Linked DNA regions of Homo sapiens. The protein of the gene in region 4 interacts with the protein of the main gene of each other region in a biochemical or structural test. Each region holds a gene or a part of one and is shown on either strand. Other genes may lie near its edges.

Region 1 (3,500 bases), on a different chromosome or scaffold from region 4:
TTCTTAAATATAAACTGACTAAAAATATGCAAATAGATCATTTCTGACAACAAATGATCAATGCATAAAACTGCTTGGCAACTGGCTGAGCGCGGTGGCTCACGCCTGTAATCCCAGCACTTTGGGAAGTCAAGACAGTTGAATCACTTGAGATCAGGAGTTCAAAGCCGGCCTGGCCAACATGGTGAAACCCTGTCTTCACTAAAAATACAAAAATTAGCCAGACATGGTGGTGGCACGCCTGTAATCCCAGCTACTTGGAAGGCTGAGGCATGAGAATCGCTTGAACCTGGGAGGTGGAGGTTGCAGTGAGCCGAGATCACAGCACTGCACTCTGGCCTGGGCAACAAGAGAATCGCTTGAGTCTGGGAGGCAGAGGTTGCAGTGAGCCAAGATCACGCCACTGCACTCCAGCCCGGACGACACAGTGAAACTCCATCTCAAAAAAAAAAGGCGGGGGTTGGCAACTATGAAAATAAAAAATGAGAGAACATACCAAAATGAGTAACCAGAGGTCAAAAACAATGAAGACTTGAGGCAAAGAAACGTCTATGCTAATAATCTCTTCCAACTTCAATTATGACCAAAATGAACAAATCCTGTTCCAGCCTAATCCCTTCCCAGTTTGGACTCATAGTTCAATACATTCAGATGTGAAGACAAAGAAAAAAGGGATACTGTCTGCTAGTGACTGAGCAAGAAGAGACTAGGACTTCCTATTGGCCACACAAAACTGCCAAAAGCTGGCACTCTTTAACCCATTTAAACCCTTAAATATTCCAATTTCCACACTGTTGTGCACATCAATAGTTTCTGCCTTTTTATTACTGGGTAGTATTCCATTGTACTACAGTGTGTTTATCCATTCTCTAGCTGAAGTACATCGAGCTGTTTGCAGTGATTACAAGTAAGGCTACTGTAAACATTTGTTTAGAGGTTTTTGTGTCAAGACAGGTTTTAATAACACTAAGGCAGGCCGGCACGGTGGCTCACGCCTGTAATCCCAGCACTTTGGGAGGCCGATGTGGATGGATCACCTGAGGTCAGGAGTTCGAGACCAGTCTGGCCAATGTGGTGAAACCCCATCTCTACTAAAAATACAAAAATTAGCTGGGTGTGATGGCGCGCGTCTGTAGTCCCAGCTACTCGGGAGGCTGAGGCAGAAGTATCGCTTGAACCCGGGAGGCGGAGCTTGCAGTGAGCCGACATTGTGCGACTGCACTCCAGCCTGGACAACAGAGCAAGACTCTGTCTCAAAAAAAAAAAAAAAAATTTCCTTCCCATGACTAGCACAATCTAAACCTGAAGTATGATTTCAGAACTATGCTCATACTTAGAGCCAATAATTTTCTGGGTGCTTCCATTGCTTGTAGGCCCCCTAACATCTTGATTGCAGCAGTAATGGGAAGGAGGGAACCAGTTTAGACAGCCACTTTCCCCAATTCCTCCAGACTGTGCGAAACCACAGGACAAAGGTTCTGCAACAAATGAAGTGCAAGGAAAAAGAAAGAGACAGGAGGAACCTATGAACTGAAAAAGATTTAAGAGATAAATCATTAAATCACAATGTACTGTGAAATGAAAAAGATATAAGAGAAACCAACCAATCAAAATGTTATCAGTTTTCTTGGAAGCCTGACTGAAACTGAAAAACAAAGTTTAAAAGAATGGGTAAAACAGAACAGTGACTAGATATTTTATTATTTTAATTTTAGGTGTAATCATGGTATTATCTTTTTAAGTCCCTACACAGAAATACATACTGAAATATTTATGGATAAAGTGGTATGTCTAAGATCTGCTTCAAAATAATGGGAAGAGTAGAAGTGACCAGTGTACAAATTAAACAAAGCTGGCCTAAGCTTGTAACTGTTGAAGCTAGGTGATGAGTATATGAGGGGTTCATTTTACTACTCACGGTAGTTTTTTTTGTTATTTTGTTTTGAGACAAAGTCTCACTCTGTTGCCCAAACTGAAGTGCAGTGGCACGATCTCGGCTCACTGCAACCTCCACCTCCTGGTTCAAGAGATTCTCCTGCCTGAGGCTCCCAAGCAGGTGGGATTACAGGCACGCACCACCAAACCCAGCTAATTTTTTTATTTTTAGTAGAGATAGGGTTTCACCATGTTGATCAAGCTGGTCTCAAACTCCTGACCTCTGGTGATCCATCCACATCAGCCTCCCAAAGTGCTGGGATTACAGGCGTAAGCCACCGTGCCCAGCCTACCCTAGTGTTATTAAAACCTGTCTTCACACACTGTGCCCGGCCTGTTGTTTTGTTTTTCTGAGACAGAGTCCTGCTCTGTTGCCCAGGCTGGAGTATAGCGCCAGCCGCTCTCTACTTTTCTGTATGTTTGCAGTCTCAAGCAATCCTCCTGTCTTGACTTCCCAAAATGCTGGGATTACATGCGTGAGCAACCCCTGGCCTCCTGTATTTTAAAACTCAGACCTACATATCAAGCTCTTGAGAAAAACAATTCATATCACTGATAGCAGAAGGTCACATCTGATAAAACTATTTAACTGCTCCCCACCAATTCTGTCCCTCTGATTTCCCCTCCTGTGCCTTTTCTTCTTTTTTTTTTTTTTTTTTTTTTTTTTGAGACAGAGTTTCACTCAGTCGCCCAGGCTGGAGTGCAGTGGCGTGGCGTGATCTCAGCTCACTGCAACCTTCGCCTCCTGGGTTCAAGCGATTCTCCTGCAACAGCCTCCCGAGGAGCTGGGATCACAGGCTCACGCCACCATGCCCGGTTAATTTTTTTGTACTTTTAGTAGAGAGGGGGTTTCACCACGTTGGCCAGGCTGGTCTGGAACTCCTAACCTTGGGTGATCTGCCCACCTCAGCCTCCCAAAGTGCTGGGATTATAGGTGTGAGACACCATGCCCAGCCCTTTTCTTCTTTCTAAGCCTTAGATCCTGCTAAACCCAACTTGTAGCACTTCTTCCTCCTTGATTTTTATTTTTCATTTTTCGTCTGAATTATTTTCAGTGTTCTAATCACTGCTCATTACATGTTACACAGATACTGCCCTCAGATGTTAATGTCTCACCTACACCTTTCAGTCTGGTCCCTAAGTGATATCTACTCTCCTTCAGCCAGATATAACCGGTGAACAACTATTTCCAAAATACAAGGCTTCTAAAAGACATCACAGAAAAACAGGAAGTATATTCTGAATCCCAACCCTCAGCTTTTTCATTAAACAAAACTCCAATAGGACAACTAACTATAATATAAATCATTTTACTGAACACTACAAACAATACTGATAAATTGATTCCTAAATGATTAATTCTATTAAAAAAAATTTCAAGGCCAGGCATCGTGGCTCACACCTGTAATCCTAGCACGGTGGGAGGCCAAGGCAGGACTGCTTGAGCCCAGGAGTTCGAGATCAGCCTGGGTAACATAGCGAGACCCCATCTCTAAAAAAAAATTGTAAAAATTAGCCAGGCATGGTAGCACACGCCTGTAGTTGTAGCTACTCAGGAGGCTGAA
Region 2 (3,500 bases), on a different chromosome or scaffold from region 4:
TAAAACATAACTGTTTTAAAGTCTACTGATGAGGATGGAAATAAACATGATGCTAGATAGCTTTATCCATTTTCCTGATTAGCTGTCTATTACATATATTACATTAGCTTAAATATATATATGTAGGTTTATAATATTTATAGATATATTAGATTTATATATCCATTTTCCCAATTAGCATTCTCCTCTTAGCTGTTGAATTTGTGGCAAAGTACTTCAAAAGAATTAGAAAGGATTTGCCTTATAGTATTGTGCTTTATAGTATTATAGTATAATACATTGAAGCAACACAGATTTTAAATAATGTTCGATTGTGTTTTCATGTTTAGCATTAACTCCTGCAAAATTTTTAAATATTCTTTATATAATTTTAGAATTTAGCTTCAACCTTTGCTTTGGACTTCAACTAGCAGAGGTTTTACAACAGGGGGCAGGAACAATCACCCAAGGTCTTCAAGAACATAAGGGGTTAAAAAAAAGAAATTTAAAGTGTATGTGTGTTTAAGTAACTGCTAAAGATCTCAGAGTTCAAAGAAATACTTTACTAAGAAAGCACATCTTAAAAATAGCATTTCTTTATCTTTTTGACAAGTGTAAACATTTTTAAGGCAAAAAATTACATAGCTGTTTCTGGTGGTTGAAACAAGTGATCAGAAGCCAAGGAGTTATTCTGTTTAGATTCTTAAAGCAAGTTGAAGTAAAACTCCTGAGTGCCTGACTTCTTGACATCTGCCCTTTTATTTTTCTAAGAACAAAAAACAGCGCATGATGGTTCGAGCTGCAGTTTTAAAGATGAAGGATCCAAAACAGATAATCCGAGACATGGAGAAATTGGATGAAATGGGTAAGAATTTACAAACAGGCAGCTATAACAGTCTGACACGTACAGAGGCAGGCAGGTAACGAGTGAAGCAGCATAGGCGTAAGTAAAACAGAACAGCATGATGGCATTTGATGCTTGGATTTAATGTTAGTTTCAGGGAGACAAAATGGAGTGCTAGAGGGCTGTTGCAAACTGGAGACCCCAGATACCAGAATAAGAGGGAAGCGATTATTTGGCTTTCAGTTAATTGTTATTGTGAGATAACAGAAGCACAGTTTGGCCAGCTTGCTTTTTGGGAGAAGACTTAATCTGATTTATGAAATAACCTTGGGTTTTTTGTTTGTCGTCTTTTATTTAATGTTGGCAACTACCATGTAAATCTAAGTATTAGGCCCCTGTGAATATAAGGCAATTTCCAATTTTTCCAATCAGAAGATCCAAAAAGATACTTATCCATTTAGTAAGGATATAGAAAAAAATCATCAAATACCTAAAAACCAAATAATAAAATACTATACCAGGATTCTCTGCCTTTTTCACATTTTATAGAATAGTTTTATTCACTCTTCATATGCATTTTAAGTATCGCTGCTTTGTTATAACTGGAATCACATGAAATAGCTGCATGTTATCTTTTTTTGCATCTAAGTTTGAAAATCATTGATGTTGCCACTGGAAATTTTATCCTAACCCACAAATATCCATTCTGTTTAATATTAGAACATGTAGAATATTTTGTTTTTTTAATAGAAATTTTCAAACATGCAAGAAAATAAAATAGTCTAGTTAACTTCCATGTGCTTTTCACCTGTCAAGTTTCTGCCACTTTGTCTTCTACCCTTTGCCACTTTTGTAAAATAGCATTTTAAAGTGATCGTTACAAGTTCCATGTTTTGCCCAAAAACAGAGTAGTAAGTAAAAGAGATGGAATGAAACTCCTCAATGATACATTAAATGGGGTACAAAAAAAAAATTCAGTCATGGCATTAGGCTATTACAAGGTTTCTGAAATAATGTGGGAGAATCTGTGCAGCTAGCCTGGCTAAGAGTTCTGGGTCAGGCTTCAGGATCCCAGATATTTCCCAGTTCAGTTGTAACTGATTCCACTTCCTGCCTCTGGTCTAAATATCAGCAGGGATAATTACTTTCCTTGGGGAATCAGGGAATCCTTCTTTAAATGACCCCAAATGTTATGTGTTGTTTTAAAAGGAGATAATAGGAATAACTGAGGTTTCTTGAGTAGTTGTCTTGCTATACACCTACGCACCAGTTTTTTTCCACCAGTTTTCTAATCGTCACAATTTTTTAGGGTAGGTGCACTGTCCCTATTATACAGGTAAGAAAACTCAGGCATGGAGAGATTACATAGCTTTCCTCAAGGTCACACTGCTATGTAGTGGCAAAGCTGAGATTAAAACTCAGGCATTCAGCGCTTTTACTAATCACACTAGGATTAGTATGGTGTAAGAATACGCCCTCTGGATTTGAATAAATTGCCAAGATTAATAATAGTTAATAGGATTTAAGGAAGAAGATAAATTTGTTATTCTTTTAAGAAAAAGGAAAGGGGTGAAGAGAATACTATTCATCAGGGGTCTAGTTACAATTTATAAAACTCAATACAGACTAGTTAAGGCAGAAAAAAGCATGCATTGGCTGTCTTAATTAAGAAGTCTTAACATAAAAAAAAGATGAGAAATCCCTGAGAGAAACTAGCCTCAAAATCCAGTCTCATCATCAGTACTGTCCATCTGTCTAGTCTGATGTCTGTTAGCCTCATTCAGCTTACTACTAATGAACTCCTTGGGATAGAAGGTGGAATATATGTGTGTAATTAGTGATGATTGAGAGACAAGGCCACAGGCAGCTCTAGGTTTGTTTTCTCTCTACATAACACATTCAGAAAGAAAATCTGAGAGCTTATCTCTCTCACATCTACATTTAAAATCTCAGGGAATGTTCTGGTCCCAGTTTGGATCATGTGCTAATTGATCTCTGAGTCATTCACTGAAAAGGAAGATGGGGGGATATGATTGACCAGGCAGGCCTGGAGGTCTTATTCTTGGGATAGAGGACCTGCAGTTAAGCCCCATATTGACACATGATTAGTTAGGGAGAGAAAGGATTGTATAGTAGCTAGGCCAGGAATACGGATCTGTTATAAAGATTATAGTTAAGTGGTGAGTCAAACACCACTGGATATTTTATTTGTAATCCCATTGTATCATCATAGCTTTATTACAAAGTGATTAACGTCTCCATTTTTTAGATGAGGAAGCAAAAAATCAGAGAATTCAAGTAAAATGCTTAAGATCTCAAAATTTGACAGGACTAACGTAGTAGGTAAACACAAATCTGACAGAATCTTCACGAGGTTTTCAGCACAGAGCAGTGAAAATTGATTTTTATTACAATGAAGATGAAAGTCAATTAGGTGGCATTTCTGAGAAAGGTAAAATTAGTGGCCATCTAAAAAGGGTGGGGATTTTAATAAATATTGTAGTTCTTCGAATAAAATTGAAAAGAGTATGTCTGGTGTCTAGATCTCTTAAAAATTTTTTAGCATATATGGAGGTTTTTATCATGTAACCTATTGATACCTAATTGAAGTGGCCTCTTATATTTAATTCCATAATCTACTTTTTCTCTTAGAGTTTAACCCAGTGCAACAGCCACA
Region 3 (3,500 bases), on a different chromosome or scaffold from region 4:
TTGAGCTGAGATCGTGCCACTGCACTCCAGCTTGGGCAACAGTGAGATCCTGTCTCAAAAAAAAAACGTGCTTACCGTATCGTTCAACAGTTGCATTCTTGGGTATTTATTTCAGGGAAATTAAAACTCAACACAAAACCTGTACATGAATGTTCACAGCAGCTTTATTCATAGTAGCCAAAAACTGGAAACAAACCAAATGCCTCCAATAAACTGGCACACCCATACAGTGGAACAGTACTGTGCAATAAAAAAAAAAAAAAAAAGGAACTGTTAATAAATGCAGCAACTTGCTTGATCACAAGAGAATTAAGCTGAGTGAAGAAAGCCAATCTCAAAAGGTTACATACTATATGATTTCATTAATATAACATTCTTGAAGAAACAGAATAGTGGAGATGAAGACTATATTAGTGGTTGCCAGTGGTGAGAGATGAGGGAAAACGGTGACTGGCTATCAAAGGGTAAGGATCCTCATGATGGAACTGTTCTGTATCTTGACTGAGGTGGTGGTCACATGAGTCTGATTAAATTGCATAGAACTAAGCAAACAAGTACATGTAAAGGTGGTGAAATCCTAATAAAGTCAATTGTTAATTTTTTTTCCATGAAACCTGTACAACAAATTTTCTTATTTTAATGTTAATTTTCTGATTGTGATACAGATATGCAAAATGTTATGGGGAAAACTAAAGTATACAGGATCTCTGTTATTTCTTAGAACTGCATATAAATCTAAAATTGCCTTAAAATTAAAAAAAAAAATTTTCAAAGTTGCAAAGCTCTAAATTGTGCACTAAGGAAAAGATTTGGGAGACCATAGTCAATATGACAGAGTTTTCTACTGTCCTGGAATGTAAAAATTGAGCCCATATGAAAGGGCTTGTAACAGGCCTTTGGGGGATTTTTTTTTAACCAATACCCAGCCTTTCTATACCCATAGCCAATATTGTATATAATATATTATGAGTTTATATTTTTTTCTGGGTTGCTAATCAGTAGCTTCCATCAAATTCTCAGAGGGACCCATGATTCCAAAAAAAATAAAGAACCTATTGGCTTTGTGCTCTTGCTTGAAACAATAAGTAATTTGATAAATAAAACAAATGAAGTTGTTTTGCAATAGTAAGCTTATGGGACTTCTGATTCCAAAAGATGATACCAACAGAAAAGTTGAGAATTATAAATTTGGGGATGATAAAGTCATGTGAGTTGTTTAAGGGAAGTTGAGGGTGTTAACCATACTTTTTTGTATTTGTTTTTTTTTGAAACAGGTTCTCACTATGTCACTCAGGCTGGAGTGCAGTAACGCAATCTTGGCTCACTGCAACCTCTGCTTCCCGGGTTCAAGCGATTCTTGTGCCTCAGCCTCTCAAGTAACTGGGATTACAGGCGCATGACACCACACCTGGCTAATTTTTGACAGGCAGGCGGCACCACGCCTGGCTAAGTTTTGTATTTTTAGTAGAGACAAGGTTTCACTGTGTTGGCCAGGCTGGTCTTGAACTTCTGACCTCAGGTTATCTGCCTGCCTCAGCCTCCCAAAGTGCTGGGATTATAGGCGTGAGGCACCACACCCAGCGGCACATTTCTTTTTTTTTTTTTTTTAAGGAGATGGAGTCTTGCTCTGTCACCCAGGCTGGAGACTGGAGTGCAGTGGCATGATCTCGGCTCACTACAACCTCCACCTCCCGGGTTCAAGCGATTCTCCTCTCTCAGCCTCCTGAGTAGCTGAGACTACAGGAGCGCGCCACCACGCCCAACCAGTTTTTAGATTTAGCTAGAGTAAATCTTTAAATCTTTAGTAGAGACAGGGTTTCACCATAGTAGAAACAGGGTTTCACCATGTTGGCCAGGATAGTCTCGATCTCCTGCCCACCTTGGCCTCCCAAAGTGCTGGGATTACAGGTGTGAGCCACCGCGCCCCAGCCGGTACATTTCTTTTAATTCGGTTAATGATTATAGATGCCTGTTGTGTATCAAGCATTGTACTGTACTAAGAATTACAGACACTCAGCAATGGAAGGAGTCCAGAGATTGTTAACAACAGGCAAAGGAGGAGTGCTGTGTTTAGAAGTGTAGAACCAAGTATAGTGGGAGTCTAGAGGAGGGTATGAAATGAACCCTGACCTTTTAGAGCAGTTCTGAGAATCTTGCTCTCCTAGAAATACTCGCTCTGGATACTTAGAAAATCTTGACCATTGTCTTGTTCCTTATGCAGGCCATATCAAACGTTCAGTTGGCCGGGCGCGGTGGCTCACGCTTGTAATCCCAACACTTTGGGAGGCCGAGGCAGGTGGATCACAAGGTCAGGAGATCGAGACCATCCTAGCTAACACGGTGAAACCCCGTCTCTACTAAAAATACAAAAATTAGCCAGGTGTGGTGGCATGCGCCTATAGTCACCAGCTACTCGGGAGGCTGAGACAGGAGAATTGCTTGAACCCGGGAGGCGGAGGTTGCAGTGAGCCAAAATTGCGCCACTGCACTCCAGTGTGGGTGACAGAGCAAGACCCTGTCTCAAAAAAAAAAAAAGTTCAGTTAATGATATATTTGTATTGATTTTTTAGTTAAGCCAGACCAGTTGATAAAGTTGGTATATAATTTTCCCAGACTTCTCTAATATTAACTTTTTTTGTGTGAGTTACATCTCTTTTTCGCCCTCTCTCTTTTTTTCTTACTATTTTTCTTATTAACATTCTCTTTTAAAGTCATACACCAAGCATGTAGGAGAGCTGGGAATCAAACCCACTTTGTCTAGCTTCAAAACCCTTGTCTTTCCTCCAAGATATATTAAGCAACGTGGAAGCTTATAGTCTGGTTGGGATAAAATCTACAAAAAAAACAAAAGTGGGGGGTGGGAAAGGTTAAGTTATAGTAAAAGATGAAGGAAATTTTGAAAGGTTAACTGAATTTACTTTCTTTGGTATAAGAAGTGACTTGGGTTTAAGTATCTGCTATGTCACTAATTAGTTTTGAGATCTTGGACAAGTTATATAGCTTTTCTGAGCCCGGGTTTCTTCATCTGTCAAATGAAGATAATACTGGTTACAAAGACAAAGTGAAATAATAAATACAAAATTCCTGACGCATAGAAGGCATTGGATAAGATATGATTATTCTGAGTGGCTGGGAAACAAATGGGTCACCTCTTGTGTTGTTTACACCTCAGCTTTGTTTTCTTTGGCCCTTGGGATATCCAAGGTCTCCAGAGACCCAAGCAAAGATTACTTAAAGGAGTCAGTTCCAAAAGGGTTGTCTAGAAAGTACTTTTGCCTGAGGTTAAACCATTTTTAGGAAGCTCCTCCTTGATTTTTTGTCTTCCCATTTCAGTCTACTCTAGCTCTCCGGGGAAAGCAAGGACAAGGAGAGACATACAGAGTTGAAAAAGAAAAAAGAAAGACCAGACCATCAGACAACTGAACATCTGAGACACCCATAAAGCCCTTTTATTACCTTTAGGCCACATGCCAGTGTCTGAGGGTATAAATTGTACTTAA
Region 4 (3,500 bases):
GGGACAGTGGAAGGTGGGAATAGGGCTTGGGATTCGAGGGTGGGAGTTCATCCAGCATCAGAGTCCTCCTCTCTAACTCTGTTATTTGCCTCTCTTGTGCTGCTGGACCCAGAGAGAGGTACTATGCCTATTTTCCCCCTCCTACACCTGGACCAGATGCCTGGAAGCACCCAAGCTCCCCTCTTCTGCCCTGCCCCTTCCCACCCGCTATGCTCCACCATTACCCTCCACCTCAGCATGCTTGCCTGTCTACCCCTCCCCCCCAAGAAGGCAGCACCTATGGGGGACCAGCTGTGGGCAGAAGCCCTGGAGGAGCTGTGATGGGCAGGGAGGACGTGGGTGGGGTGGGGACCAGGCTCAGCACTGGATGGTACTGGGAGACACTGAGGTGCCCCTTCCCCAACAGGGACTTTGCCTACGTAGCTCGTGATAAGCTGACCCAGATGCTCAAGTGCCACGTGTTTCGCTGTGAGGCACCTGCCAAGAACATCGCCACCAGCCTGCATGAGATCTGCTCTAAGGCACGGCCCCCTCCACTCCCTGGACTAGTTGCCACCTTTGCTCTACAAGGGTGTGGGTGGGGTCACTGAGTGCTGTAGGGGGGCCCCAGGGCAATGAGGCTCTAATAGATTCTCCCTGGCTCCTCGCCTCCCTTCCTTCCTCAGATCATGGCCGAACGGCGTAATGCCCGCTGCTTGGTAAATGGACTCTCCCTGGACCACTCTAAACTTGTGGATGTCCCTTTCCAAGGTCAGTGTCAAAACCCCTCCAGGTCCAGCTCAGCTTTGTTGGCAAAGGTGGGTGACCCAAGGAAAGGCATGAGCTCCTGGACAGCGCTGATAGAAAAATGAACACATGAAGACTGAATACTCCAATACGTGGAGGGACTCCGGTTAAAGGGAGGCAGGGGACGAGATGAAAGTAGGGCCTCGGCTGGGCAAGTGTCCAGCTTATGCCCTGCTGGTGGGGCTGCGGGTGAGCAAGGTCTGCCACCATGATCAACCTTCTCTTCTTTCCCATAGTGGAATTCCCAGCGCCTAAGAATGAGTTGGTCCAGAAGTTCCAAGTCTATTACCTGGGGAATGTACCTGTTGCTAAACCTGTTGGTATGTGTGTCCTTCTATACCCAGGGGCTGCTACCTTGATCCTAAAACTCTGCCCCTACCCTCTGCCTTCCAATACTTCTTCTACCAGACCTTCCTCATGCTTGGTGTCTCCCTACCCTTTAAAATGCATCCCACCTCCCCATACTTCTGTCCTAGCTCTATTTCCTGTCCTGCCTATAGCAGCAGTCAGCACGCCTTCGCTGAGCATCAGCCACGTGAGTGGTGCTGAACCAGGCACAAAGGGAGACCCCACTCCTTCATCCCATGGAAAAGCTTTGGTGGGATTGGGAGGCTGATGTTAGATGACTGGAGGACACCAGACAGCAGCCTGTAGCTGGGTTTAGTGTTACAGCACCAGCTGTGGGCTGGGAGCATCTGGAGAAGGAAACAGTGAGCATAATTGTCACATACTTCATTGTTGCAAAGAATTTTTTTTTTTTTTTTTTTAAAGACAAGTCTCGCTCTGTCCGCCAGGCTGGAGTGCGGTGGCGTGATCTTAGCTCACTGCAACCTCCGCCTCCTGGGTTCAAGCAATTCTCCTGCCTTAGCCTCCTGAATAGCTGGGATTACAGGCTCCCGCCACCACGCCTGGTTAATTTTTGTATGTTTAGTGGAGACGGGGTTTCACTGTGTTGGCCAGGGCTGGTCTTGAACTCCTGACCTCAAGTGATCCACCTGCCTCGGCCTCTGAGAGTGCCGGGATTACAGGCGTGAGCCACTGTGCCTGGCCTGATCTGGTTAACTCTTATATTTCAGTGCTTTCCTAGTGTCTGCTATTTATTTGTTTATTCACTTAACAAATACCTTTGAAGCTTACCATGTGGCAGGCCCTGGACTAGGCACAGGGAGAACAGTGGCCACAGTCCCATTTTCCTAGAGGTTATAGAAGGTTATGGTAGAAAAAAACCAGGAATTAATAAAATAATCACACAAATAAATGTGTGAGTTATTCGTTGAGAGAAAGTAGCAAGATATAACAAAGGAATTTCATCTAGTCTGAGGTTGTAAAAGACTTCCCTGTGAAAGTGACATTTGAACTGAAATCCAAAAAATAAGTAGAAGTGAATGCGGTCAAGTGGAATGGAGGTGGGGGTGGGATGGGGGAAGATCAGGGTCTACAGTGGGAGGCACTTTGGCATTTCCAAGGTACTGAAAGAAGGCCAATGCAAGATGAGGCCGACAGCTGGGCAGTGGTCAGGCTGCCAGGTCAGGGACCTCAGGGGCTATGTTAATGATTTTTTCTTCATCCTAAGGGCAGCAAGGAGTTATTGAAGTCTCCGAGAGTGCACTTGCCTTAATCAGATTTGAATTTTGAAAGCTCACTTTGGCTATTTCATGGAGGGGACTGTTAAGTGGGTGGAGGTGGATGTGAGCAGCTCAGTTAGGAGGCTCTTGCTGTAGTCCTGGCCAGTAATGAGAGTATCTTGGGCAACAATGGAGCTGAAGAAGAGTGCGTGGATTCAAGAGCTGTTTAGACGGGTATAGTCAACAGGCCTCAGTGATTGGTTCGATGTGGGTGAGGGACAAGGATGACTCCTAAGTTCCTGGCTGTTGGACCTTCTGGATAGTGGATTATTTCTTTCAAGGTGGCAGATGCTTGAAGAGGCCAATTTGAGCGTAGAGATTGTGAGCTCACTTTTGGACATGCTGAGTTTGAGATGCCTTTGGGGAATCTGAGAGGCAAAGTCAGGTTGGCAGTTAGATTCACAGATCTGGAGCTGAGAGGAGAGGTCTGGGCTGGAGATAGGAGTTTTGGCATTATTGGGTTGTAGAGGTAATCAAAGCCATGGATGTAGAGTAGCTTGGCCCTGGAAAGTGGGCATCCTGAAGTGAGAAGGGAAATGAAGCTAGTCATAGCCTTGAGGCCCTCCAACATTCAATGGATGTGTAGAGGATGAAACTGCCAAGGATAGTGACAACTGGAGAGAGGCAGGAAGAAGAAAAGAGGCTACTTGAAAAAGAAGTGGTAGGGTATCATGTCAAAAGACACACAGGAAGAACTCAACAAATGTTTGATGAATGAAATAAAAAATGAATTAATGAATAAATGAGACTTGCTTCAGATTACATGGCCAGGAAAGCTAGACCTGGGAGTCAAACCCCGGTCATCTTTAATTCTCTGCACTTTCCCTTATACCGTGCTGACTTTCACGTCCAAAATCTTACATTGAAAGAGGGGACCCTTCTTAGAAAAGGTGGGGATTGAACTGAGGTTTTGAAAGAAGGTTTGGATTTGCAGAGTGGAGTGGGTATTTCATTTGGATTCGATGGCACTGCCAAAGACTTGGAGCTGGAGGTGAGAAAAGCATGCTGACCCTTACGCCTTTGCTTTCCTCCTTCTCGTCCTCAACTTCTAAACCCTTGTTGGCTCTTCCATTTGTTACCCCCATTCCC
Region 5 (3,500 bases), on a different chromosome or scaffold from region 4:
GCTTGGTATGGACACAATCTCCCTCAATACCCATTCAAAGCAGTCTTTGCTTTCACCTCTCCCTTTAGGTGAGGGATTCACGGTATGTAAAATAAGCTTGTAAAGAACCCTTCTGTATCAGAGGTAGTTTTGTGCCTGCACTGTGAACCATAGAAGGCATTTGGTCAAAGGTGTCATAAAAGGGGCAGAAGAGGTACATCAGAGCACAGAGTTGGGATCGATTATTTTTTTCAAGTTAATTGCCCATAGTAGCAAAAGTATCAACCAAAATTTAGAATAGCCTGTCCATCCATTTAACAACAGAGCATGCAGCAGCCTGTGCAGACAATAGCTTTTAGAGACAAACTTCGATCTGGTTTGAGCACCAAGAATGCATCTTAAAAAGTGAAAAATTCATTTGTGTGCAATGAATAGTGTAGTGAGCTGCATGGTGCCCCCTCCCCAAAAAAGATATTCAATATCCTACTCCCTGGAACCTGTGATAGTACCTTATTTGGAAAAAAGGTCCTTTCAGATATAATTAAGAATCTTGGAATAAGGGAATTATCATGGGTAATCTGGATGGGCCCTAAGTCCCGTCACAAGTGTCCTTATAAGAGAGAGGCAGAGGTAGATTATATATACAGAGGGGAAGTGATGTGAAGACAGAGGAGAGGGAGATGCAGTCACAAACCAAGGAATGATGGCAGCCACAAGAAACTGGAAGACACGGGAAGAGTGTTTCCCTTAGAGTCTCCAGAAGACGTTCAGCCCTGCCAACCCCTCAATTTTGGACTTTTGGCCTCCAAAACAACAAGATAATAAATTTCTATTGTTTTAAGCCACTGGGCTAGAGGGTAATTTGTTACAGCAGCCATGGGAATCTAATGCAGATTGTGGAACTGGGACGGATTGGGTACTTCTGTAACAAATGTCTTAAAATGTGAAAAAGGCTTTGGAATTGGATAATGGGTAGAGACTAGAAGAATTTTGGTGGCTGTGATAGAAAAAACTAGATTGCCTTTACCAGATGGTAGTAGTATGAATGTTAAAGGCATTTCTAGTGATGGTTTAGAAGGAAATGAAGATTTTATTGGAAAATGGAAGAAAGGGAATCCTTGTCATATAGTGGCAAAAAGTTTATCTATCTAAATTGTCTACTACAGTAGTGTGAAAAGTTGAATAAATGATGAACTTGGATGTTTAGCTGAGGAAATTTTCAAGTCTAGTGTTAGAGATATAGCTTAGTTTCTTCTTAGTGCTTATAGTAAAATAAGACAGAAAACAGATACATTGACAAAACAGGCTGGGCATGGTGGCTTACACCTGTAATCCGGCACTTTAGGAGGCCAAGATGGGTGGATTGCTTGAGGCTAGGAGTTCGAGAGCAGCCTGGACAACATAGCAAGATCAAGTCTCTACAAAAAAATGCAAAAAATTAGCCAGGCATGGTGGCATGCACCTGTAGACCCAGCTACTTGGAAGGCTGATGCAGGAGGATCCCTTGAGCCTGGGAGTTTGAGGTTACAGGGAGCTATGTTTGCACCACTACACTGCAGCCTGGGTGACAGAGTGAGACCTCATCTCTAATACATTAAAAAAAATTTTTTTTTAAAGAGAAAATAACTATATAAGTGGACAAAAGGAATCAGTATCTGATGACTGGGTAAATTCTGAGCCTGAATTCACAATCTGAATGATTGTAAAAAAAAAAAAAGATGCTAAAATTAGGAGATTCACTGTTAGAAAAGTGTGCTCTGTAGATAAGCCCAAGGGTGTGTCTTGACAACCTTTGGCTAGTGCTGAAGAGGTTAGGCATTAACTTGTGGATTTATTTGACTGTTTCAACAGAAGCCAAGAATAGAGATGGGGTTGTTCAGGAAAAATCTGTGAGGACCCTCTTTTCTGAATGTGTGAATCAATGTGACATACGTAGAAGACCCACAAGATTTTTGAGAATGTTCTACCATCAGAAACACTTCCAACTGGGCCTAAAAGGGACAGAGACAGAAAAAAATGAAAGAAGATTGTGAGACTGCCAGAATTCTACAGGTAGGAAACCCGTTGATAAAACTTCTCAGCTGCAAACATGTGCCACCCTTCAAGATAAAGGAAGCACCATCCCGAGAGCAGAGCTGCAGGTACAGAGGCAGAGGCCCAAGTGTGGGAACAGAGGAAGAAGTGCAACCCATAGGCACAGAGGCAGAGGCCCAATCCATAGTCCAAGAAAGAAGAGCTACAGGCCCAAAGGGTGGAGCCCTGAGAAAGAGGATTACTGCCAGGCCTTGAAATATAACAGAAATTTGCCTGGCTAGATTTTGAAAATGATTGGGACAGGAGACTCCATTCCAATTTCCATTCTCTCCTTTTTGAGACAGAAATGTCTGTAACTGTTATCCTATGCCTGTTCCCACCATTGTAATTTGAAAGCAGATTAACTTTTCTGTTTCACTGGTTCTCAGAGGAAGAGGAATTTGGCCTCAGGAAAGACCATACCCAGAGTTTCACTCATACCTGATTTAGATGATCTAAATGATAAGCTTTGGAACTTTTGAACCGATGATATTTGAATGAAATTTTGGACTTAGGATTGATATAATGGGTTGAGACTTTTGGTAATGTTAGGATGGGATGAATGTCTTTTACACATGAGACAGACATAAATTTTGGGCCAAAGGGCAGACTCTGGTGGGCTAAGAGTGGCTTCCTAAAAGACATAGCCACATCCTAATCCCCAAAACCATGAATTTATCTTATTTGGAGAAGGGGGCCTTGCAGATGTAATTAAGTTAAGACTCATGAGGTGAGGAGATTATCCTGGAGTAATCTGGGTAGTCCCTAAAAGTCATCATAAGGATCCTTATTAAACAGAGGCAGAGGCAGATTAGGTATACAGAGGAGGGTGATGTGAAGACACAGCAGAAAGAGAAATGTGGCCATAAGCCAAAAAATGCCAATAGCCACCAAAAGGTGGACGTGGCAAGGAAAGATTCTCCTCTAGAGCCTCTGGAGGGAGCATGGCTTTGCTGCCCTTCAAAAATGTAAGCAAATAAGTTTCTGTTGTGTTAAGCCATCATATTATTGGTGGTAATTTGTTACAGCAGCCAAAGGAGATGATGGATGCAATTAGTTGTTAATATTTTAAGGATTCTGTACCTTTTAAAAATATTCTGAAGAAAATCTGCATAAATGGTGCTTCTCATGTGTGGCAGTAATATGGCCAACAAAAGACCTTAGTGTAATTTGGTTTCATACTAAAAATGTCACTATATACTTTTTTTGGTGATATACTTTCCAATCATCTAAAACAAAACTGCAAATGGCTAGAGCAGGACCATTACAAATCTGGGAAACAAACCTTTTAACTCACTCAACTATTGGAACTTCATGAAAGACCCTGAAAGGTTTTTTTTTTTAATGTTTGTGAAAAGCATGTGGGATTGCTCTAAATAAAAATATATAAGTTATCAATAATAGTACTTCATTCGTTCTTGTTCACAAACTAGAAAATAAGGCAAGTT
Region 6 (3,500 bases), on a different chromosome or scaffold from region 4:
AACAAAAGGTAGTCAAAAGTGAACATAATGAAAACAAAGTAATACTGTCAAAGTTTAGCTGGAAGTTTGCTGAGACTAATTCTCTTAGTTCAAAGGGGTAGCAAGTGCTGGAGAGGTGTAAAAGGTACATGAGCACCAAACCTAGACTTTGTCCTCTGAGTAACAAGAAAGACTGAAAGACATGAAAATTTAGTTGATTTGAGCCTGGGCAACAAGAAAAGACCCTAACTCTACAAAAAAATATAAAAATAAATTAACTGGGCATGGTGGTGTGTGCCTCTAGTCCCAGCTACTCAGGAGGCTGAGGTGGGAGGATCACTTGTGCCCAGGAGTCTGAGGCTGCAGTGGGCTAGAATCGTGTCACCGTATTCCAGCCTGGAAAACAGAGCAAGACCCTGTCTTTAAGAAACAAACAAACAAACAAAAAACAAATAGTTGGTTTAACGCCTTGTCCAAGTACTCCCTAAAACCACCCCCATTATACTGGTGAGGCCCACACAGGAAACATCCTCAGCAAAAACCCAGACTCGTACAGCTGTATAAGGCACCTTCAGATGACAGGGGTGTGGTAAGATCAGCAGGGAGGTCTCCAACCACTGTCTGTACCTGGGATGGTTCCCCAGATATGCCCCATGTCCCCAGCAAGCCTTCAAAACCTCAGGATAATGAAAAAATGTCCCTATAATGATGTTTAGGGAACCCTGATTTTTAAAATGTCCCAACAGTAATATTCAAAGTGCCACACTTATATACAACACCTGTGTCAGTCAGAAAGTACACGGACCTTAAAGACACAAGATATGAACACGTTCAAGTCTCAGGTTCACTGCTGACTCACTCTGACCCACAGCAAGTTACCAAACTACTCTTTGCTTCCATTTCCCCATGTGTAAAATGCAGCTAACACCAGTTTCCCTTTCTACCTTGAAACATTATTGAGGAGATGCCAAAGTGTTTTTGTTTTATAGACAGGGTCTCACTCTGTCACCCAGGCTGGAGTGCAGTGGTACAATCTCAGCTCACTGCAACCTCCACCTCCTGGGCTCAAGGGATCCTCCCACCTCAGCCTCCTGAGTAGCTGGGACTACAGGCATATACCACCATGCTCGGCTAATTTTTTTTTTACATTTTGTAGAGACGGGGTTTCACCATGTTGCTCAGGCTGGTCTCAAACTCCTGCGCTTAAGCGCCTTGGCCTCCCAAAGTGATAGGATTATAGGCGTGAGCCACTGAACCCAGCCCTCAAAGTCTTTTCAAATCGTACAGTGGCCTGCAAATGCAAGGGGCTAGGAGGGGTTGTTCCATAAACATTGTCTGTGGGGCCTTCCATTGCTCCTCTGGCGAGAACCTTGTACTTAGAACTGCCCCAAACACACCAAGGCATGGCCCCGGCATCTGGTGCCAGCTAGCCAGCTCCACTCTTCAGACTTTCATATCCCTGGCCTGTGAGTTTAAGAGGGGGTGGGAGCCCGGCACAGTGGCGCACACTTGTAGTCCCAGCTACTCAGGAGGCTGAGGCGAGAGGATCACTTGAGCCCAGAAGATCATACCCAAGCCTGGGCAACAAAATGAAATTTCACCTCTGAAAACAAAAATTTTTTAAATTTTTTTTAAGACAGATGGCAGGAGACAGGGTACAGGCAGTGCTGTGCCCCAGATCAACCACCACAGCAATTATGTGCCACACTAGTGATCGACACCCAGGCTGGCTCCTCAGCAAGTCGTGGTCATACCCTGCCGTGTAACTAACACCATGAGGTCTCAATTTGACAGTATATTAGTCTAACTGGAACCTCATGCTTTGGAAAAAAAATTCTCCCTACTCCTTAAATAATGCAAACCACACATAAGAATGAAGGTGAATGCACACTTAAATCCTGCTAAACTAGGCCACTATACCCAGCAAATGCCTCGGGCAGACAAAGGGCTCCTGGAAAAAGGGGCCCTGGTTGTCTCCTGTACCACTGCCTAAGCCATAACTTTACCCCATCTGGGAACAATCTGAAAAATAAAACAATGAGAAGGCTTGGCATGTTCATTCCAAGCTATTCAGTTGCTTTAAATTAGCTTAACGTTAATTTTAGAATCATACTCTCCACCAGAAGGAATAGATTTCAACAGAAAAAGACATGATTCTGACTCAACCCAGCTGGTGGGACTTTTTAAGGGTAATTTCCACTTCAGTTTCTTGACAGGAACATGCAGGAAATGAAAAGGCCTAACCTAGCGAAAAAACTTTTGGAAAACCGCTCAGTTGTGCATTTCTACTGCATGCTCCATAAATATACGTGAACCCAGGAGAAGTGAAGCACAGAGTTCTGCATGCCTGCTTTAACTCGGATATTGGTCTCTTTGTTGCAATGTAAACGATAAGTTCACAGATTTTATTTATTTATTTACTTTTGAGGCGGAGTCTCGCTCCGTCACCCAGGTGGGAGTGCAGTGGCACAATCTTGGCTCACTGCAACCTCTGCCTCCCGGGTTCAAACGATTCTTCTGCCTCAGCCTCCCAAGTAGCTGGGACTACAGGCGCCCGCCACCACACCTGGCTAATTTTTTGTATTTTTAGTAGAGACGAGGTTTCACTATGCTGGCCAGGCTGGTCTTGAACTCCTGACCTCAGGTGATCTGCCCACCTCAGTTTCCCAAAGTGCTGGGATTACAGGTGTAAGCCACCACACTGGCTCACAGATTTTAGAAATGCCTACAAAAGCAATCACCATAGCTAAAAATCAATCTAGGGATGTGCATGGTTTTGGATTTTTTTCTTTCTTTTTTTTTTTTTTTTTGAGATAGGGTCTTGCTCTATCGCCCCAGGCTGGAGTACGCTGGCATGATCATACCCTTGACCTCTCAGGCTCAAGTGATCCTCCCAAGTGGCTAGAAATACAGATATGCGCCACCATGCCCAGCTAATTTTTTTATTTTTTGTAGAGACAGGGGTCTCACTATATTGCCTACACTGGTGTCCAAGTCCTGGGTTCAAGCGATCCTCCCACCCTGGCCTCCCAAAGTGCTGGGATTACAGGCGTGAGCCACCTAACCTGGTCATATATATTTAAAGGGACCTTGGATATCCTCTTATTTCTTTAGCAGCAGAGGATGGCACAAAATTATTGGAAAGCTACTTGGCAAAATGTTTAAGAAATCTTTTAAGGATGCTCTTTTAGCCAATAATGAGCCACACAGAATTTTCTTCTAAGGAAACGATCTAAAAGGGAAAGAAAATGCTCAGAGATTTCCCCACAGCTTAATTTGCCAAAATGAAATGTTGGGAACAGGCCAGGTGCGGTGGTCACTGCCTGTAATCCCAGCCACCTTGTGGTGGCTGAGACATGAGGATCACTTGAGGCCAGGAGTTCAAGACCAACCTGAGCAACACAGAAAGACCCCATCTATACAAAAAAACTAAAAAAAATAAAAAAAATAAAAAAAAAATTAGCTGGGTGTGGTGGCAGGCACCTGTAGTCCTAGCTACTCAGGAAGCTGAGGTGGGAGGA
Region 7 (3,500 bases), on a different chromosome or scaffold from region 4:
CCAACTGCTTTTTAAGAGTCCCCAAAGTGATGAGGACAAAAGTTGAAAGTAAGCATTTAGAAGCATTTCTAGCAATTTGACAGTAGTTTTCTGTTTCTAAGATTGGATGTTGTGTGTCTTTTTTAAAAAACTAATTCATTTTTCTAATAATTCATTGTTATTTTACAAAAGCGTCAGTTCCTGATGAAAATATTTTTCAAAAGACTGGTCCTTGGCCAGGCGTGCACTTTGGAAGGATAACTTGAGCCCAGGAGTTCGAGACCAGCCTGGGCAACATGGCGAGACCCCCATATCTACAAAAAAAATGTTAAAAATTAGCCAGCCAGACATGGCGGTGCGTGCTTATAGTCCCAGCTACTCTGGAGGCAGAGATGGGAGGATTGTTTGAGCCCAGGAGGTCAAGGCTGCAGTGAGCTGTGATTGCACTACTGCACTCCAGCCTGGGTGATAGAGCAAGACTCTGTCGCAAAAAAACAAAAAACAAAAAAAAAGTTGGTCCTTCACATGGGTAAGTTTGAGAACCTCCAATCTGGCTTACATAGCAGGATTCATTTATCCATGTTTCCCCAAAAGTGTGGGCTATAGTGAACTGACTTAATAAAAAATATTAAATAAATAACACAGGTGGTATGAGAAGATGACAAAAATCATGAATCTTATACCAGAATGCTTGAAGTTTGGGAAACCTTGCTTATCTTATCAACTCATTTCTATCCGTTGTTACCTAATTCAAAGCAAGATTTTGGATAAATAGAATATAGAGATGAAGAAAGGGAAAAGGTGGGTTGGTGGCCATCATAGAACACTGCCCTTGTGAAACAACATAATTAAGGGCCCTGAACATGAGAGAAGTTAGCACCCAGGGAGGTCAGCTGTCAAAATAAATTTTGAGGCAGAACAGGAGGCTACTGAAGGTTGCTGACCCAAAACTGTTAAGAGATCCAGTGTGACACATCACTTAACCTCTCTAGGCCTCAGAGTTTTTTCATCCTTAAAATGAAGACAGCAGGTAATGTTAAGAGCTCTTTTCCAGGACATCCAAAGTATGTTAAGTTGAAAACAAACAAGTTGCAGAACAATAGAGGAGAATCCCATTAGCAAAAGCAAACTGTGTATGCAGAGAGCATTTCTGGAAGGACAGCAGAGAAACTTTTAACAAGCATGCTTCAGCGGTGTGTTGGGGCTGGATGGGGAGGGGCATTTTAGAGCCCACATTTATCCTTCTATCAGCTTGTAGGGAAGGCTCTTGACTGCCAGGGTTTGAATCCCAGCTCCTCCTCAACTAACTAGGTGCCTGGGGCAAATGATTTAAACTCCCTATACCTCAGTTTCCTTGTCTGTAAAATGGAAATAATAACTCACAGGGTTGATAAGGGCTAAATGAAGTAATACACATAAGGTGCTGAAAACAGTGCCTGGCACAGAGTATATGTTAACTATTATTATCATAAGCAAGTAATACTTCATCATTTAGTTATTTCAAGATGCTTCCAACTTTACCACTGCAATTCTGGTTAGCCTACTTCAGGGTTTTTCTGAGTTCTTCCTTTGCCTCTAACTCTGCTAATAAAAGGCTGAGTTAGGCCAGGAGCAGTAGCTCGTGCCTGTAATCCCAACTACTCAGGAGGCTGAGGCAGGAGGATCACTTGAGCCCAAGAGTTCGAGGCTGTATTGCATGATGATCACACCTGTGAATAGCCACAGCACTCCAGCCTAGGCAACATAATGAGACTCTGTCTCTAAAAAAAAATTGTTTTTTAAAGGCTGGGTAAGGTATTGAGCCATACATTTCCCCAGCTTTTCCTCCTGTGGCCCTAACTGGCAAATCTGAAATCATATCCCTGTCAGAAGGGCTGGGGCCAGCCTAGAAAGGACCTGTGGGTTTGGGGCAGCCAGACTCTCCCTGAGACAGACAAGACCTAGCCAGTTTCCAAGTGTGATAGACACAGGCACACAGGCAGGTGCCTACATCTAAGTCCATTTGCTGGTCTCTTAGTGTCCCCAACTCCCTGAAGGAACAAGATCCCAATTTCATAGTAGGTAGGGATCTTTCCTAGGAATTCTGGAAATATAAGAAAATAATCAGACATGTTAAAGCAGCATTTTTGTCCATTCCACAATTTCCATGAGCTAAGCTTTCATCAGAATTAAACATCAGAAACACCTCATGCCAACAGGACATGAGGGAACTTTTGAAGTAATGAAAATATTCTATATCTTGATTGTGACGGTGGTTTCACAACTGTATATGTTTGTCAAAACTCATAGAGCTGTAACTAAAAAGGGTGATTTCACTATGTGTAAATTACACCTTAATAAATCTGACTTAAAAAGAGAAAAAAAGCATCTTTGGCAATATACACAGAGGGAATTATTTTCTAGAACTTTAGTGGGTTTAAAAAACATACAGCTGACTCTTTTTGCTAGAGACAGTTTTTCCCTTGCACTGGGGTAGTTCTAAAAGATGGGAAAAGGAAGTTATTCTTCAGGGTACCCTCTAGTGAATGACGTCTGGTAATGTCCTGCAGAATCCTCCCAGACTTAAAATTCTTTTCTCGTGTCTAGTCATCTCACCCTAACCTGGCCCTGTTAGTTTCAGTCAGATTGTGGTCTGAATTTTCAGAGACTTTAATCAAGGACTGACTCTTCCTCCCTTAAAAATGAACATAATTTATTGCTGCATCTGCTTCCAAACGTCTGGATCTTAAAAAGAAAGATATGGGGTCTAAAACTTGTCGAGAATTTACAACCTATCACCAAGAACCTTAACAACAAGCTTCCCGTACCCAACCTTTCCCAGCCGAGTGTTACAATGCATGATTTTAACCCAAGAGATGACTACTTGTTTGTATGGCTCCCTTTCAGGCCAATACAGAGAAGCCTACCTTGAATAAGACAGAGCAGGCTGGGAGAAATGCTCTCCTTTCTGATATCAGCAAAGGGAAGAAACTAAAGAAGACGGTCACCAATGACAGAAGTGCACCAATACTGGACAGTAAGTAAAAAAAGGCTATCTACCATGGAGAGGAACAGTTTATGGCCTAATAATCAACCCTACCCTCACCACTCAATTTTTATTTTATTTTATTTTTTGGTTAACAACAGCTGCAAAGCTAGCAAAATAAGGGACTGTATCACTCCCTGTAGGCCGCAGCTTTGGCTTGGGTTCCCCTCTAATGCTGCAAGAAGCCAGTATAATAATTCTTTGTCCAAGACATACACAGCAGCAATTCTCTGCATTATTCACAACACTTTCTGGAGATTAACCCATTGCTCCTGGCACCACAGATGAGGAGGCAGCATAAAATATGGAAAGAGCCCTAGCCTTGGAATCAAAAGCTGTGGGTTCAAGACCTGGCACATCCATCCTGTACCATCTCCAAGCCTTGTTTTCTTCATTTTAAAATGGAGATGATAATACATGTTCTATTGACCTCACAAGTTTGTCATGAGCTTCAAATGAGATAATGCCTGTAAAATGTTTTGTTGTCTGGAAAGTG

What was found.
Region 1: the proteins of APBB1 (region 4) and SF3B1 form a complex in vitro, tested with the Homo sapiens proteins (one study listed by BioGRID).
Region 2: the proteins of APBB1 (region 4) and WBP11 form a complex in vitro, tested with the Homo sapiens proteins (one study listed by BioGRID).
Region 3: the proteins of APBB1 (region 4) and KHDRBS1 form a complex in vitro, tested with the Homo sapiens proteins (one study listed by BioGRID).
Region 5: the proteins of APBB1 (region 4) and DIAPH2 form a complex in vitro, tested with the Homo sapiens proteins (one study listed by BioGRID).
Region 6: the proteins of APBB1 (region 4) and SF3A1 form a complex in vitro, tested with the Homo sapiens proteins (one study listed by BioGRID).
Region 7: the proteins of APBB1 (region 4) and WIPF1 form a complex in vitro, tested with the Homo sapiens proteins (one study listed by BioGRID).

The regions. Positions count from the first base shown.
Region 1 is NC_000002.12:197,428,529-197,432,028, forward strand, and holds part of SF3B1 (splicing factor 3B subunit 1), read right to left. Parts: intron 1-3,500. UniProt on the Homo sapiens protein: Component of the 17S U2 SnRNP complex of the spliceosome, a large ribonucleoprotein complex that removes introns from transcribed pre-mRNAs.
Region 2 is NC_000012.12:14,796,979-14,800,478, reverse strand, and holds part of WBP11 (WW domain-binding protein 11), read left to right. Parts: intron 1-750; coding exon 751-844; intron 845-3,475; coding exon 3,476-3,500. UniProt on the Homo sapiens protein: Activates pre-mRNA splicing. May inhibit PP1 phosphatase activity.
Region 3 is NC_000001.11:32,020,368-32,023,867, forward strand, and holds part of KHDRBS1 (KH domain-containing, RNA-binding, signal transduction-associated protein 1), read left to right. Parts: intron 1-3,500. UniProt on the Homo sapiens protein: Recruited and tyrosine phosphorylated by several receptor systems, for example the T-cell, leptin and insulin receptors. Once phosphorylated, functions as an adapter protein in signal transduction cascades by binding to SH2 and SH3 domain-containing proteins.
Region 4 is NC_000011.10:6,398,595-6,402,094, reverse strand, and holds part of APBB1 (amyloid beta precursor protein binding family B member 1), read left to right. Parts: coding exon 1-13; intron 14-112; coding exon 113-118; intron 119-406; coding exon 407-521; intron 522-665; coding exon 666-750; intron 751-1,022; coding exon 1,023-1,106; intron 1,107-3,500. UniProt on the Homo sapiens protein: Transcription coregulator that can have both coactivator and corepressor functions. Adapter protein that forms a transcriptionally active complex with the gamma-secretase-derived amyloid precursor protein (APP) intracellular domain.
Region 5 is NC_000023.11:97,601,342-97,604,841, reverse strand, and holds part of DIAPH2 (protein diaphanous homolog 2), read right to left. Parts: 3' UTR 1-3,500. UniProt on the Homo sapiens protein: Could be involved in oogenesis. Involved in the regulation of endosome dynamics.
Region 6 is NC_000022.11:30,346,895-30,350,394, forward strand, and holds part of SF3A1 (splicing factor 3A subunit 1), read right to left. Parts: intron 1-3,500. UniProt on the Homo sapiens protein: Component of the 17S U2 SnRNP complex of the spliceosome, a large ribonucleoprotein complex that removes introns from transcribed pre-mRNAs.
Region 7 is NC_000002.12:174,580,805-174,584,304, reverse strand, and holds part of WIPF1 (WAS/WASL-interacting protein family member 1), read left to right. Parts: intron 1-2,865; coding exon 2,866-2,995; intron 2,996-3,500. UniProt on the Homo sapiens protein: Plays a role in the reorganization of the actin cytoskeleton. Contributes with NCK1 and GRB2 in the recruitment and activation of WASL.